4 linked regions of the Homo sapiens genome follow. The protein of the gene in region 3 purifies or fractionates together with the protein of the main gene of each other region. This does not show direct contact. Each region holds a gene or a part of one and is shown on either strand. Other genes may lie near its edges.

Region 1 (3,500 bases), on a different chromosome or scaffold from region 3:
GATGGTAGGAACAAGGTATCTTACTGTTGGAGTGGGAATTTACAAATTAGCACAGGGAGGAGGCTAGGACGATCTATGTGGTAATGGATTACAGCTAAAGACATCAATAAGAACACTAGCCAGGCACAGTGGGGCATGCCTGTATCCCCAGCTACTTGGAAGGCTGACGCAAGAGGACTGCTTGAGCCAAGGAGTTCGAGGCTCTAGTGCACTATCATCACACCTGTGAGTAGCCACTGCACTCCAGCCTGAATAACACAGCAAGAACCCATCTTAAAAAAAAAAGAAAAAGAAAAAGAAAGCTCATTTAACTTAATATATGTAGATACAGATGGCTATGCAAATAAAAATTTATAGATATGTAATATATACACGAGTAAGCACACACAGGTAACAATTCTTTATTTTTTTAATTTTTTTTTGAGACAGAGTCTCGCCCTGTCACCCAGGCTGGAATGCAATGGTGCAATCTCGGCTCACTGCAACCTCCGCCTCCCAGGTTCAAACGATTCTCCTACCTCGGCCTCCCAAGTAGCTGGGATCACAGGCTCCCGCCACCATGCCCAGCTAATTTTTGTACTTTAGTAGATACGGGGTTTCACCATGTTAGCCAGGCTGGTCTCGAACTCCTGACCTTGTGATCCACCCACCTCTGCCTCACAAAGTGCCGGGATTATAGGTGTGAGCCACTGCGCCTGGCTTACAGTTATTTATTCTGTCAAGTGAGAGGGCCTAAAAGAAACACTCCAGTAGCAACAAGCTTACATAAGGCCTAGAACTTGGTTTTAATATCATTCTCCAATAAAAGGAAGCAGAGCTCCTTGGAGAAACAGCTGATTCTAGTACTGGAGCAAGAAATAAACAAGATGAGCCTGGAGCATCTTTTGGTGCCAGAAAGGAAAGAAGTGCTTTAAAGTGCAGGCACATATACACAAAAACACAATGGGATACTGCCAATGGACACAAAGCCAGCTGAAAGAATTCCCAATGGCCAAAGTTGGAACAATTTGAGCAACAAAATATAGTAGCATTAGATTATAACGAAGTATAAACTATCCATAAGTTTATACTAATGTAAATAACTGAATAAATAAATAAATTGGGGAAAAGAGACAAATCCCCAATATGGAAAAATCCCAAATAAAATATGTAGATATTCCACCCTAATGTAGACAGAGTATAACTCTCCAGTCTGTAAGAGTGAAATGCACATAGTGACTTTCTTCCAAAAAGTGCATGGAAAGGGGGAAAATGAAAAGAATAACTTTACAGGAGAAACCTAACGAACAAACACTACTTCAGCCAGGTAATCAAGGTCCACATCAACAGTCATAAATCATAAAGATAGTATGTACCCCTGATATGATGGGATACAAATGGCACTTTACCTCTGTGATCTTCCTCCCAAACCCTTTATAAGTCCGGTCTAATCACAAGAAAAACAAATTCCAACAGAGGGGCAATCTACAATACACCTGACCAGCACTCCTCAAAGCTGTCAAGGTCATCAAAAACTAGGGAAGCCTGAAAAACTGTCACAGCCAAGAACAGCCTAATGAGACATGGCAAGTATATGTAATGTGGTATTTTGGAATGGAAAAAGAACATTAGGTAAAAACTAAGGGACCGGGCACGGAGGCCTCACGCCTGTAATCCCAGCAGTTTGGGAGGCCAAGGTGGGTGGATCACAAGGTCAGGAGCTCGAGACCAACCTGGACAACATGGTGAAACCCCGTCTCTACTGAAAATACAAAAATCAGCCGGGCGTGGTGGCAGGCACCTGTAATCCCAGCTACTCAGGAGGCTGTGGCAAGAGAATAGCTTGAACCTGGGAGGCGGAGGTTGCAGTGAGCTGAGATCGCGCCATAGCACTCCAGCCTGGGACAGAGCGAGACTCTGTCTCAAAAAACAAAACAAAACAAAACAAAACAAGGGAATCAGAAAAAAACTATGGTCTTTAGTTAATAAAACTGTATCAATATTGCTTCATTAAATATAGCAAATTTACCCTTCGAAGGTAAGATATTAATAGGGAAAACTGCATACAGGGGCTGGGGACAGGGAAGGAGTCATTAAGGTGTCCACATCCCCTGACAACTCAAGGCTTAAAACAGTGGCACAAGGCTGGGTGTACTGGCTTATGCTTGTAATCCCAGCACTTTGGGAGGCTGAGGCAGGCAGATAGCTTGAGCTCAGGAGTTTGAGACCAGCCTAGGCAACATGGCAAAACCCCGTATCTACCAAAAAAAATACAAAAATTAGCCAGGCATGGTGGCGTGAGCCTGTAGTGAGGGCTGAGGTGGGAGAATTGCTTGAGCCCAGGAGGCTGAGGCTGCAGTGAGCAAGATCACACTACAACCTGGGTGACAGAGCAAGACCCTGTTTAAAAACAAAAAACAGTGACACAAAAGCAAATCTATTTTCCTAATGTAACTAGTTAGCATCATTAAAAAAAAAAAAAACACTGCAAGTTGGAAAACATTGGGTTTCTTTATTGCAGAATATCAGAACTTATGATATGCTGATGTATACCCAGTCTGTCTGTCCTTCCCATTTCTTGATTTGGTTTAGTTGTTGTCTCCACTTTGACCAGAAACAATTTTCTTCACACTTATAAAACAAAGCCGGCTGGGTGCAGTGGCTCATGCCTATAATCCCAACACTTCCAGGAGGCAGAGGCGGGTGGATCACCTGAGGTCAGGAGTTCGAGACCAGCCTGACCAATATGGTGAAAACCCATCTCTACTAAAAATACAAAAATCAGGCCAGGCGCGGTGACTTGCACTTGTAATCCCAGCACTTTGGGAGGCCGAAGTGGGCAGATCACAAGGTCAGGAGTTCGAGACCAGCCTGGCCAACACAGTGAAACCCCATCTCTACTAAAAATACAAAAAAAAAAATTAGCCAGGTGTGGTGGCACACGCCTGTAGTCCCAGCCACTCGGGCAGCTGAGGTGGGAGAACCGCTTGAACGCAGGAGGCAGAGGTTGCAATGAGCTGAGACCATGCCATTGCACTCCAGCCTGGGTGACAGAGTGAGACTCCATCTCAAAAAAATAAAAATAAAAACAAAAATTAGCCAGGCATGGTGGCATGCGCCTGTAATCCCAGCTACTTGGGAGACTGAGGCAGGAGACTTGCTTGAACCCAGAGGCGGAGGTTGCAGTGAGCCAAGATCATGCCACTGCACTGCAGCCTGGGTGACAGAGTGAGACTGCGTCTCAAAAACAACAAAAACCCACACAAAAATAGAGCCATTTCCCCAGGTCTGCACAAAAGAGAACATCTACACCTAGAAAAGAAACATTTAAGAACCAAGAGATCAAACAAGCACCCACTGAGTAATGCAGAGCAGCAACAATCCATCGAAAGCCACCTCACCTGGTTTCCAGAAAGAGGTGAAGTGAAGTGGTGACTATGGAGGTTTCGGCCAGTGTTGACATGTGTCAGCCGGATGGGCTGGCCACACTTGATGGGGGTTCCCCTCTCACACACTGTGGC
Region 2 (3,500 bases), on a different chromosome or scaffold from region 3:
CATCCGGAGTATTTTTATTTTCAATTTAATTCTTTTCAATCTGGAAATTACCTCATTCATTGTAGTTTTAATGGCACTCAAAATATTTTAAACAATAAAGTTTATATTCTTGCCTTATTTCTTTACATATTCATTGGCACAACTCTGAAAAAACTAAGTCATAAAAATAGAAAGTTGCTGATTACATGGTGATTACAGCAGCTGGGTAACCATGTACTAATGCTACATAAGGCAGCAGTTAATTGAGAGACTAAAGTTACTTAGAGTACAAATGGAAGTTTAAAATGTGAAATCTGTTGGTTTTAGATCAAAGAGATTTTTCCTTCACTAATCATACTTCCAATTATTTTGATTTCTGATATGAGATATATTTAAGACTTCATAAGAAAAAAGTACAATGTGTATAATTTTGTCAAATCGTGGTAATTAATCAATGGAAGTTAGATTAGCAAATTCACTTCTTTAGTTAAAAAAACACACACACACACACACACACACACAACAAATCAAGGCTTGAGCCTACTTGCCCTCTCTTTAATTTTATGCAACCCTTTATTTTGAGGCTTTAAAATTTAGAACCTGTTTTTAGACATAAAAGTTTTGTTATTTTAAATATGTTTTAATCAACTTGTGACTTCAATAAACTTATTTAAAGAAAAACTTTTCTATTTATAAAGGTAATACATGTTGCTTCAAAAAATATTTCAGAAAATACTCAATAGTATAAATAATATGAAAGCACCCATAATTTCATCACTCAGAGTACATTATGGTTAAGATGTTTGTGTATGGCCTTCCAAACCTTTAAAAAAATGAACATATATATATATGTATGTGTGTGTGTATGTTTCTAATAAGAAAAATCAAAATATTACACATATACAGACAACATATGTTGTTTAATTTTGGAATTCTCAGTTTACCTTTTTTCCATATAATAATGTTATTCATGTCAAAACAGATCACATCTTCATTTTTAACATACGCTAAGTATGCTGATATAAGGACACAATGTAATCCCCTATCAGAGGGCATGCAAGTATTAACTTTTAAGAGTGGTAGGTTCATGAAAAAGAAAGTGGATGTTTAAATCTTATGTTCAAATAGGTTTCTTCTCTTACAAAGCTAGCACACAGGCCGGGCACGGTGGCTCACGCCTGTAACCCAGCACTTTGGGAGGCCAAGGTGGGCGGATCACCTGAGGTTGGGAGTTCGAGACCAGCCTGACCAACATGGAGAAACCCCGTCTCTACTAAAAATACTAAAACTAGCCAGACGTGGTGGCACATGCCTGTAATCCCAGCTACTACGGAGGCTGAGGCAGGAGAATCACTTGAACCCAGGAGGCAGAAGTTGCGGTGAGCCGAGATCACGCCATTGCACTCCAGCCTGGGCAACAAGAGTGAAACTCTGTCTCAAAAAAAAAAAAAAAAAAAAAAAAAAAAAAAAAAAAAAAAAAAAAAAAAAAAAAAAAAAAGCTCGCACACAGATCTAGACTAAGACTAAGAGGTTGCCTTATTGTTGGTTTATGAGATAAAATTAGTTTTAAAATTAACTAGTTCGTTTTATTATTTATCATTATCTGATAATATATGACTTTTATAATTTCAATGAAATAATCACAAATTATGATAATTGGTTTAAATAAACACATACCCATATATAAACTGGCAGTAATTTCTAGAGTGATAAAGAGTTGATGAAAAGTTCCTAACAATTTCATATACATACTCAAAGTAGTCATGTGCTAAATAAAAGCATACATTTAGATTAGCTGAGTAAAAAGTACTAAATGTATATTTTAAGCATATTATACTTCAGAATCACATTTTCAACCGAGATAAAGTTGTGAAGCTGGAAACATAATGCTTCTAACATTCTGAGGTACCATGTCATTGAAAAATTGTCCTTGCTGTTTTGAATCTGCTTTTGGAAGGCAATGGGTATAAAAATAAAGGATTATCAGAAAGTTACTTCCATTAGGAACACTAAACACTTAGCATGTACAACCAGCAAGTTTGAAAATCAATTAAGTCATCAGGCAAATGCAAATTAAAACCAAAATGAACTACTACTTAACAACCACTAAAATGGGTATACTAAAAAAGACAGTAACAATGGTTGGTGAGGATACTAAGAAACGGGAAGCCTCACATATTTCTGATGATAAAGTAAAATGGTACAATTTTGAAAAACAGCTTGGTAATTTCTTAAAAACATAAATATAAACTTACCATACAACCCAGTGGTTCCACTCCTAGGAATCTACTCAAGAGAAATAAAAACATATGTCTACACAAAAATTTGTATGTGAATGTTCACAGCAGCATTATTCATAATAGGCAAACATGGGAAACAACCCAAATGTCCATCAACTGATGAATGGAAACAATATGTGGCATATCCTTAAAATGGAATATTATTCAACAATAAAAAGGAACAAAATACTGATATATCCTGCAATACGAAGAACTTCAAAAATGTTACACAAAGAGCTAGAAACAAAAGATTACATACTATAATTCTATTAACATAAAATGTCCAGAAAAAGTAGCAAGATTAACTTTCTAACAATCACCACCACTATCATCATTTATTGAGTATCAATATATTCCAGTATTTTGTATCTTAAAAGCTTACTGGCAAACGTCAACATCAGTGACTATCATCTTAACTTATACATCGACATTTTACTTGATATAGTTTTAACCAAAAAAAAAAAAGTTATAAGTTCACTAGGACTTATCTAGTTTATACACAGGTTAAATGCTTTAAAAAATATCTCTCTGGCTCCCTGACTTTGGTACATTTTAATTCTCAGTATCTCCACTCAAAATGGGCAAGGTAGAAGAAAACTGTCAAATTCTGTAGTATAGCAACTAATGATGAAAGCATAATTAACAAAATACTTTAAAGAAATACATATATTCCAGTGATCCACGAATAACCAAGAGTTGTCTATGAAAAACAAGATTCATTCTAATTTCTCTCAACTTCAACACAGAAGATATTTTGTGTGAAGGACTAGAGTAGTAAGAATTGATATACACTAGCCTACTAATAGCATACACCTTTGAGAAAATTTATTTTCTTCTACACTAGAATGTGTTTTGCCAACAGAATGACATTCTGTTTTTAGTGTAGTGTTTAGAGGCTTTCTGGTGACGGACAGGATTTTAAAGACCTGGAACTATATCTGAATTGTAAGATTAAGAACTTAAAAAAAGGGCTGGGTGTGGTGGTGCACATCTGTAATCCAGCACTTTGGGAGGCCAAGGCAGGTGGATCACTTGAGGTCAGGAGTTTTGAGACCAGCCTGGCACACATGGAGAAACCCCGTCTCTACTAAAAACACAAAAAATTAGCCAAGTGTGGTGGCAGGTGCCTATAATCCCAGCTACTCGGGAGGCGCAGGCTATAGAATCTCTTGAACCCAGGAGGTGGGGGTTGCAGTGAGCCAAGATCGTGCCATTGCATTCTAGCCTGGGCAACAAGAGTGA
Region 3 (3,500 bases):
CTAAAGGTTGTCACAGATAACTTATATTTCCCAGGTTCCTTCAGTTCTGCAACAAATTCATGTGCTTCTTCATCCACCATCAAATATTCAGTAAAGTTCTCTAAATCATATATAAAAAAGAGAAGATACATGAATAGACACCTGGAAAGGCCCTGGGTATAGACAAGTCGATTAATGAAAAAAAATTAGGTGTTTTAAATGTTCCCTCCTTTTGTCAAGTTCAATTACACCTCTAAACTAAAGGTACCATTAAAGAATAATAAATAAGAGTTCAGTATTTTTACAGTCTTCCAAATAACAAAACTCAAATACGGCATTCAAATCAATAAAACTAGGGATGGGTCTACACTGTGTATCTTTATGTACTCCTACCCAACAAAATTATGTGTACAAAATAGAAGTAGATAATCAGGAAAAGTTAACAATTGTTGGCTTTCTCATCACGAGGTAAGGGCTAAAAAATAACCAGGATCAAATATCTTGTAAGTTCTTTGTGGTAGTATTAACCATCCAGAAGTGCTTTAACATTTATTTAAAATACATCTAATTTTTAAGGTATATTTTCTGATGTACCCCTGAACTTAAAGTAAAATTAAAAAAATAATAATCATGGTAATATTTTTCCTTTATCCATTTGCTTTCAGATCTTCTTAAAGAAAGAATTATTTCACATTGCTTCACAGTCCATCCATCCTCTGCTGCTTATTACTTCATTTGAAGTCATTATCATCAGTTGGTGACTACAACAGCCTTCAAAAGAAGACACTGAGTCAGATAAATGCATAATAGAACCTTCATGAGAAGAGGCAGTAAAAAATTTTTGTAATGACAAGATCCTATTTGCCGTAGGAACATATTTAGGAACAGAAAAATAAATGATAGATTAAGGAAACTTTAAAAAAAATAGGAAATTCCAGGAAAATGACTTTTGACTCAAATAATTAAGAATTTTCATTTTATGTAATATTTGGGTATGGTTGAATGCTGTATCATCTTGTATAGAAGAATCCACAGATTTTGTATCTCATGCTATTAAGTAAAATAGGAGTAAACAATATGTCAGTATATGAGACTACATGGGCCTTAAACTCTCACCCTAAAAATAAGGCTATCACTGTAACTTCAAATTTTTACAAATTATAACCTCTGCCACTCAAACTACTAGATCAGAAAATGGAAAATGAAGTATATTACTGTAAAAACTAAACAAACAACAAATAACCATAAAAATCTACCAAACAACAATTGAGATAGGTATCATGACCCAAACTTGTTGAAAGTCATGGCTCTACTTTCCTAAGTTAGTGGCTAAAATATAAAGAATGAACCTCAGATGCTGAGTTAGTCAATGCAAAATATAATATAGTAGCTATATGGAAATGTCAGCAGCTGTGTATTTTCCATTTTACTATCAGCTTCTCTTTGGAAAACTGTGGTGCTTTTTCTAGAGGGGCGCACCCTAAAGGGAACAAGAGCGGCTGGTTAGCAGGACACATGCCTCATATTCTTGAGGAAGTAGTAATGTTTTCATAAGTATTACTTTGCTGCCATGTTTAAAAATTTGCATATGAGAAAACAGAAAATTTCTCTAGGTTATGTTGTAACATTCTGGGATAGTTAGATCTTTAATTCAAAATATTTCCAAATATGATGTTTTCCTCATTGTTCTGAGACATGAGAAATAGTGGGCAGTCAAATGTATACAGTTGGCAGTACTTACAACTTGTGAATCACCCAAACCTTCTGATTCTTATCCAGTCTATTCATTTGGGTTTTCTGCTCTCAGTCTGCATTGGATACTCAATTAAATTCTCCCCTTTCATTACCATTATTCTTTGACTAATAACTGTCTATGATCAGTCTTTCTAAACTCAAATTTAAAAACATTTCAATTCCCCTTCCTTTGTATCAGTTCTTATTTCCTCTGATTTCCTACTGCTTTACCTTCTCGTTCAATATGGATATGGAACCCATCAAAAGCAGTGGGTGGTTTGGGTGGTAACCAGGTCAATATCATTTGCACAGGGAAAAAGGAGAAAGAGCCTGATGTTGACTTCTCTGTCTCACTGAGTGTACTGTTATTTTCGTATTCCATGGGAAGTACGCTGACAAATTCATCTTCACTTTCAGGAGCTGCAGATGCACTGTCCCACCAATATGGCTGAGACGTAGTTTCATAGTCACTGCTATTAAAATCAGGCCAACCGGAAGAAATGTTGCCCGAGGGAATTTCAGGGGTTTCTTCTGTAAAATGGAAGAGTTTTTCTTTTCCTATTGTATCTTGTGATCTCATGAAGGATTCTTCTGGGAAATTGCCACTCTGTTCTTCCCAGTTGTTTTTGTTCAAGTTTACGATACGAACGGAAATATTTTGAGGTGGATAAGGGGCTGTAAGAGAGAGAATTTTCATTTTCAAGTATTTTTTAATTCAATTAGAGTGAATACTTAATCTCTTAATGAGTCAGGTACACAAGCAGATTTTTAAAAGTGGAATTTAATTTTACTTCTGATACACAGACAAATTTACATCAAGATAAGCTGTGTTTTTTTCCATATACATACTTCTAACATTTTGTGGATGATGTATACCTATCAACATACCACTAGTCACACTTCAAATATATTAACTTACAATATTATGCTTGTTGAAGTGGTAATTCAACCACTTCTAAAAGCAGAGTATATAAATATTTTTCAGTTTATCGTAATTCCACTTACAAAAAAATGTATCTCTGTTCCTGGATTTTTATTACAAAAAAACCAAAACAAAACAAGTATAGTGTACTTATAGCTATGAAGATGAAAATACTCCATGTGACATAGTTGCACCTACAAGAGTTGCATACATGTGTTGCCTTTAGAGATGTTAACACACATGTTAGAAATATAGCTTCACTCCTCACCTCCCTAAAATGAAACATATAAACTCAAAATGAGTTTACAAATTATGGAAGCACACTTTACTTACAGGGAGAAAATTATGAAGACGCACTGCGTAGTCTCTGCCTGTAACAGTTTCTACTTGTTCTTCAAATAGCAGTTCCATTATCACCTCTTCCATGAACTTTTTTGTTAATTTTTATTTTGAGACAGTATCTCTCTCTGTTGCCCAGGCTAGAGTGCAATGACGTGGTCTCGGCTCACTGCAACCTCCGCCTCCTGGGTTCAAGCAGTTCTCCTGCCTCAGTCTCCCGAGTAGCTGGGATTACAGGCACCAGCCACCATGCCCAGCTAATATTTGTATTCTTAGTAGAGATGGGGTTTCACCACGTTGGCTAGGCTGGTCTCAAACTCCTGACCTCAGGTGATCCACCTGCCTCGGCCTCCCAAAGTGCTGGGATTACAGGCATGAGCCACCGTGCTAGGCCCCATGAGCTTCTAATAAAAATTTATCTCTCCTTCCTTTGTGTTGTTAAATAACTTTGTACCTCTGTTATAATATTTATCTCATTCTGCCTTGTGTTAGTGCCATTCGTGTATTATGAGTACCAATTTTTGAG
Region 4 (3,500 bases), on a different chromosome or scaffold from region 3:
AGATCTCTCAGCCCCCTTGGGGAAGCAGCATTTGATGTTTGTGTGAATCTCTCAGCGTGGTCGTCTTCTCTTCCTGGACCCTCCTGTCATGGGTGAGCGTTCCTTAGGCACATGATGGCAGAGACAGCCCTAATTAGCTCATGCTTTGATGAAACAGCTGCCTGTCTCAAGTCGTGGGGGGCAGGGGAGCAGCTCAGCTCCCAGGCCCCCCTGCGCCAGCGCCTGCCTGCCTATCTGGAGAGGAGCTGTCAGCCTCCCTTCCCCAGGGACTCTGGCCCATCTCCAGGCTGCTCTGCAGACACAGGGGTGGAGTTGCTGTGGGACGGGCTGGCACCCACCCTGTACTTCCTTTCTGGCTGAGAGGCTACAGAGTGACACGTGGTACAAAGGAGCTTTTCTCTTTAGAAAGCTGGCTCAGCGTGCTCGGTCTGCTCTGGACCTTGAAGCTTGTTCCTGGTCAGAATAGAAGTGGGGAGCTATCTTCATTCCATTCAGCCAGCTTTGGGGGCACGCCTGCTGTGTGTCGGGCCCTCTCCTGTACGGTGGCACAGTGTGTCTTTTCTGGGTTTAGGACCAGGAGCCAGCTCCTTCTGATTTGTCTTTGTTTCCTTATACCCTGGCTCACTCTCAAGGACACCGTGAGGGCCCCCTGGCCAGGAGGGTTGGGAGTTAGGAGGAACAGGTGCTTTTTGGGTCTCTGGGAGCTTGTGGTCATGCCAAGGGCAGGCAGCCAGAGGCATGCGGTGGCTTTGGTAGACTGCGGTGTCCTTTGTGGGCTAGTTGGATGGGTGTGACAGCCACCATCTGACTGCTGGCTTGGCCCCTTCACTTGTTGTTGGCCTCAGGCTTTTGTGTGCCTGTCCCCTCTTTTCTCTGGGGCCTCACATGTGGGCTGCTGAGAGGGGAGCCCTGACCTGCCCAAGGGCCTGACTATCTGGTCCCTGTGCTTGACACTTGCTCCTTAATTGATCCCTAATGCAATCTTGAAAAGCAAGGAGCCTGCAAAAGGGCATCCTGTGAGGGATCCCGGCCTTGTCCCCTGCATGGCACCCTGCCCTGATGGGGGTCCCCGCCAGGCCCCTCATCCCTTCATCTGGGAGGTCTGGGCCTGAAATGTTTTAATCACATCACTATTTCTCTAGCCCAGAATGGGGAGAGGAGTTCCAGAGGCAGCTCAGGGTTTTGAGTACTTTAGTGCAGTATGTTTATCTATTGATATGTTCATGGTTGTGTACACGTGTTGTTCATTCGTTCGTTCGTTCAGTCGTTCATTCATTCCCTACTGTCCAGGGACCTGTGACGTGGCAGGCTCTGTGCTGAGTGCTGAGAATACAGGGCAGAGAAGCTGACAGTAGCTGCTGTTATAGAGTGGGAGCCCAGTGGGAGGCATTGGGTTGTCCTGTTTTAGGATCTGCCTGGGTATTCAGAGGCTCCTGTCTCTTGCACTTTCTTCCTGCCTTCTCCCGCAAGCATTTTCTATGTGCAGTCTGAGTGCCGACCCAGGAGAGGAGAGGGATGGGGCCCTGGCCTTGGGGCACCAGACCCAGAGGGGAACAGACCCATTAGTAATTGCCCCAGTGTGTGATGTGCTTGGGTCATGGAGGAAGGAACATCCGGCACTGGCTTGGGAAGCGCCAAGAAAGGCTTCCTACGGGAGGGACGCTGAAGGAGCACCTTCGGCATCGAAATGTCTTTACAGTAGTAGAGGTTGTTCACCTTCCCAGCCCACTCCAGCCCCTTGGCTGCTGGGGAGTGGGGGCTGGCATGGGAGCACTCAGCCCTGTCACCTGTGCTGTGGGCCGCTGTTCCCACGTGGGTCTGTGCCAGATGGTCTTTGTTTCCCCAGCTGAGTTTGACTTGCCCCGTGTGGGAACCTCTGTTGTTCTTGTTTCTCCCCAGGGATGGCTGACATGGGCTCAGTTCCCTGACCATCCGATCCCTGGGCTGGGCAGGGTAGTCATGCTGTCCTGTGCTTCTTCCCCAGCAACCCCAAGGTCCAGGTGGAGGCCATCGAAGGGGGAGCCCTGCAGAAGCTGCTGGTCATCCTGGCCACGGAGCAGCCGCTCACTGCAAAGAAGAAGGTGTGTTTCCATGCCCTTCCTCCTGCCCAGCCTCCAGGACACGTGTGGGGCCTGAAAGGAAAGGGTTCCTGTCCAGGCTGTGCATGTTACCATGGGGGCCTGAGCATCATCTGCTGGGTGGCACAGGGGGAGAAGTTACACTCAACTAAAGCAGATGGCAGTGTGCCGAGGTGACTAGAGGCCTGGGGGCAGCTCCTGTGCTGTGGCCTTGGGCCCTACTCCTGGCCTCCCACCCTTGGCCTCTGTTTACCTCCCATTTACTCACTTGGTAATGTTGAAGGTGTCTGAGTCCCTCCTGGCCTCACAGTCCTGGGTTCTGGGGTATAGCTGTAACTGAGGTGGGGCCGGGAGGAATGGGGACTAATTTGGGGCACCTCTGCCTGCCTTCCCTGGGCCTCAGGGCAGGTCCAGCTCGCTTGGCCCCTCACCTACCCCTGGGTCTGTGCCCCCAGGTCCTGTTTGCACTGTGCTCCCTGCTGCGCCACTTCCCCTATGCCCAGCGGCAGTTCCTGAAGCTCGGGGGGCTGCAGGTCCTGAGGACCCTGGTGCAGGAGAAGGGCACGGAGGTGCTCGCCGTGCGCGTGGTCACACTGCTCTACGACCTGGTCACGGAGAAGGTGAGTGCCCAGGCCCACCCAGTCTCCTCTTGTTTGCTTTGTGTGTGCTTCTGGGTGGATGGACAGACAGATGGAAGAGACTGCGGACGTCACTTGTTTGCTTTGTGTGTGCTTCTGGATGGATGGACAGACAGACAGTTGGAAGAGATTGGGGACGTCAGGGAGTATGTCATGTGAGATGTGGTGGCTAAGCTGAAACCTGAGGGCTGATGAGGAGTGGGAGGTGGCCCTGCCAGCCATGGTCACGGCCAAGTGTGCAGGCAGAGGGCTCAGTATGAGGCAAGCCTTGGAGCAGCCGAGACCAGGCCCCGAGGGGACAAAAGGCTGAGGGGGTAGAACAGCCCAGAGCTCCTTCGAATGGCACTCACTCTTCGGATTCTAGAAACGTGGAGGTGCCTCCTCTGTGAGCTTTGGCTCTGGGCAGGGCCTCAGAGTGGCTGCCCTTGAGAGTCTCAGGGACCCAATTGCTTGCCACTTGGGAGGAGACTTGGTGCCCAGCCCTGTTTGCAAGCTTGAAGAAGCATCTTAATTAAGGAGGAGAGAGGAAAACCAGCCAGGCCTGGATTCTTAATTCAGCTACTGCAGAGAGCATTGGCAGGGCTTCCTCAGTTGCCTCTCTCGGGCCACACGCTCCCCAGAAGAGCCGCATGCCGACTAGTGGAGCAGGGCTGGGCAGCCGCTGGAACTGCTGCCGAATGGTGGAGGCTGGGCCCCTCACTCCCTCTGCACACGCCTCCCCCAGGCCTTCTCTCCCAGGCAGTGTCGGGATGGCTGTGGCCACCTCTGTCCATCACTGTCTCTC

What was found. Proteins that work in one complex are often made in the same cells at the same time.
Region 1: the proteins of PTPRO (region 3) and SDF2 purify together in Homo sapiens (affinity purification with mass spectrometry, with the first as the bait; 2 studies listed by BioGRID). This does not show direct contact.
Region 2: the proteins of PTPRO (region 3) and NGLY1 purify together in Homo sapiens (affinity purification with mass spectrometry, with the first as the bait; 2 studies listed by BioGRID). This does not show direct contact.
Region 4: the proteins of PTPRO (region 3) and SIL1 purify together in Homo sapiens (affinity purification with mass spectrometry, with the first as the bait; 2 studies listed by BioGRID). This does not show direct contact.

The regions. Positions count from the first base shown.
Region 1 is NC_000017.11:28,651,907-28,655,406, forward strand, and holds part of SDF2 (stromal cell-derived factor 2 precursor), read right to left. Parts: coding exon 3,381-3,500; intron 1-3,380.
Region 2 is NC_000003.12:25,759,444-25,762,943, forward strand, and holds part of NGLY1 (peptide-N(4)-(N-acetyl-beta-glucosaminyl)asparagine amidase), read right to left. Parts: intron 1-3,500. UniProt on the Homo sapiens protein: Specifically deglycosylates the denatured form of N-linked glycoproteins in the cytoplasm and assists their proteasome-mediated degradation. Cleaves the beta-aspartyl-glucosamine (GlcNAc) of the glycan and the amide side chain of Asn, converting Asn to Asp.
Region 3 is NC_000012.12:15,500,508-15,504,007, reverse strand, and holds part of PTPRO (receptor-type tyrosine-protein phosphatase O isoform a precursor), read right to left. Parts: intron 2,389-3,500; coding exon 1,945-2,388; intron 101-1,944; coding exon 1-100.
Region 4 is NC_000005.10:138,950,369-138,953,868, reverse strand, and holds part of SIL1 (nucleotide exchange factor SIL1 precursor), read left to right. Parts: exon of another isoform or gene 1-1,984; coding exon 1,985-2,081; intron 2,082-2,533; coding exon 2,534-2,698; intron 2,699-3,500.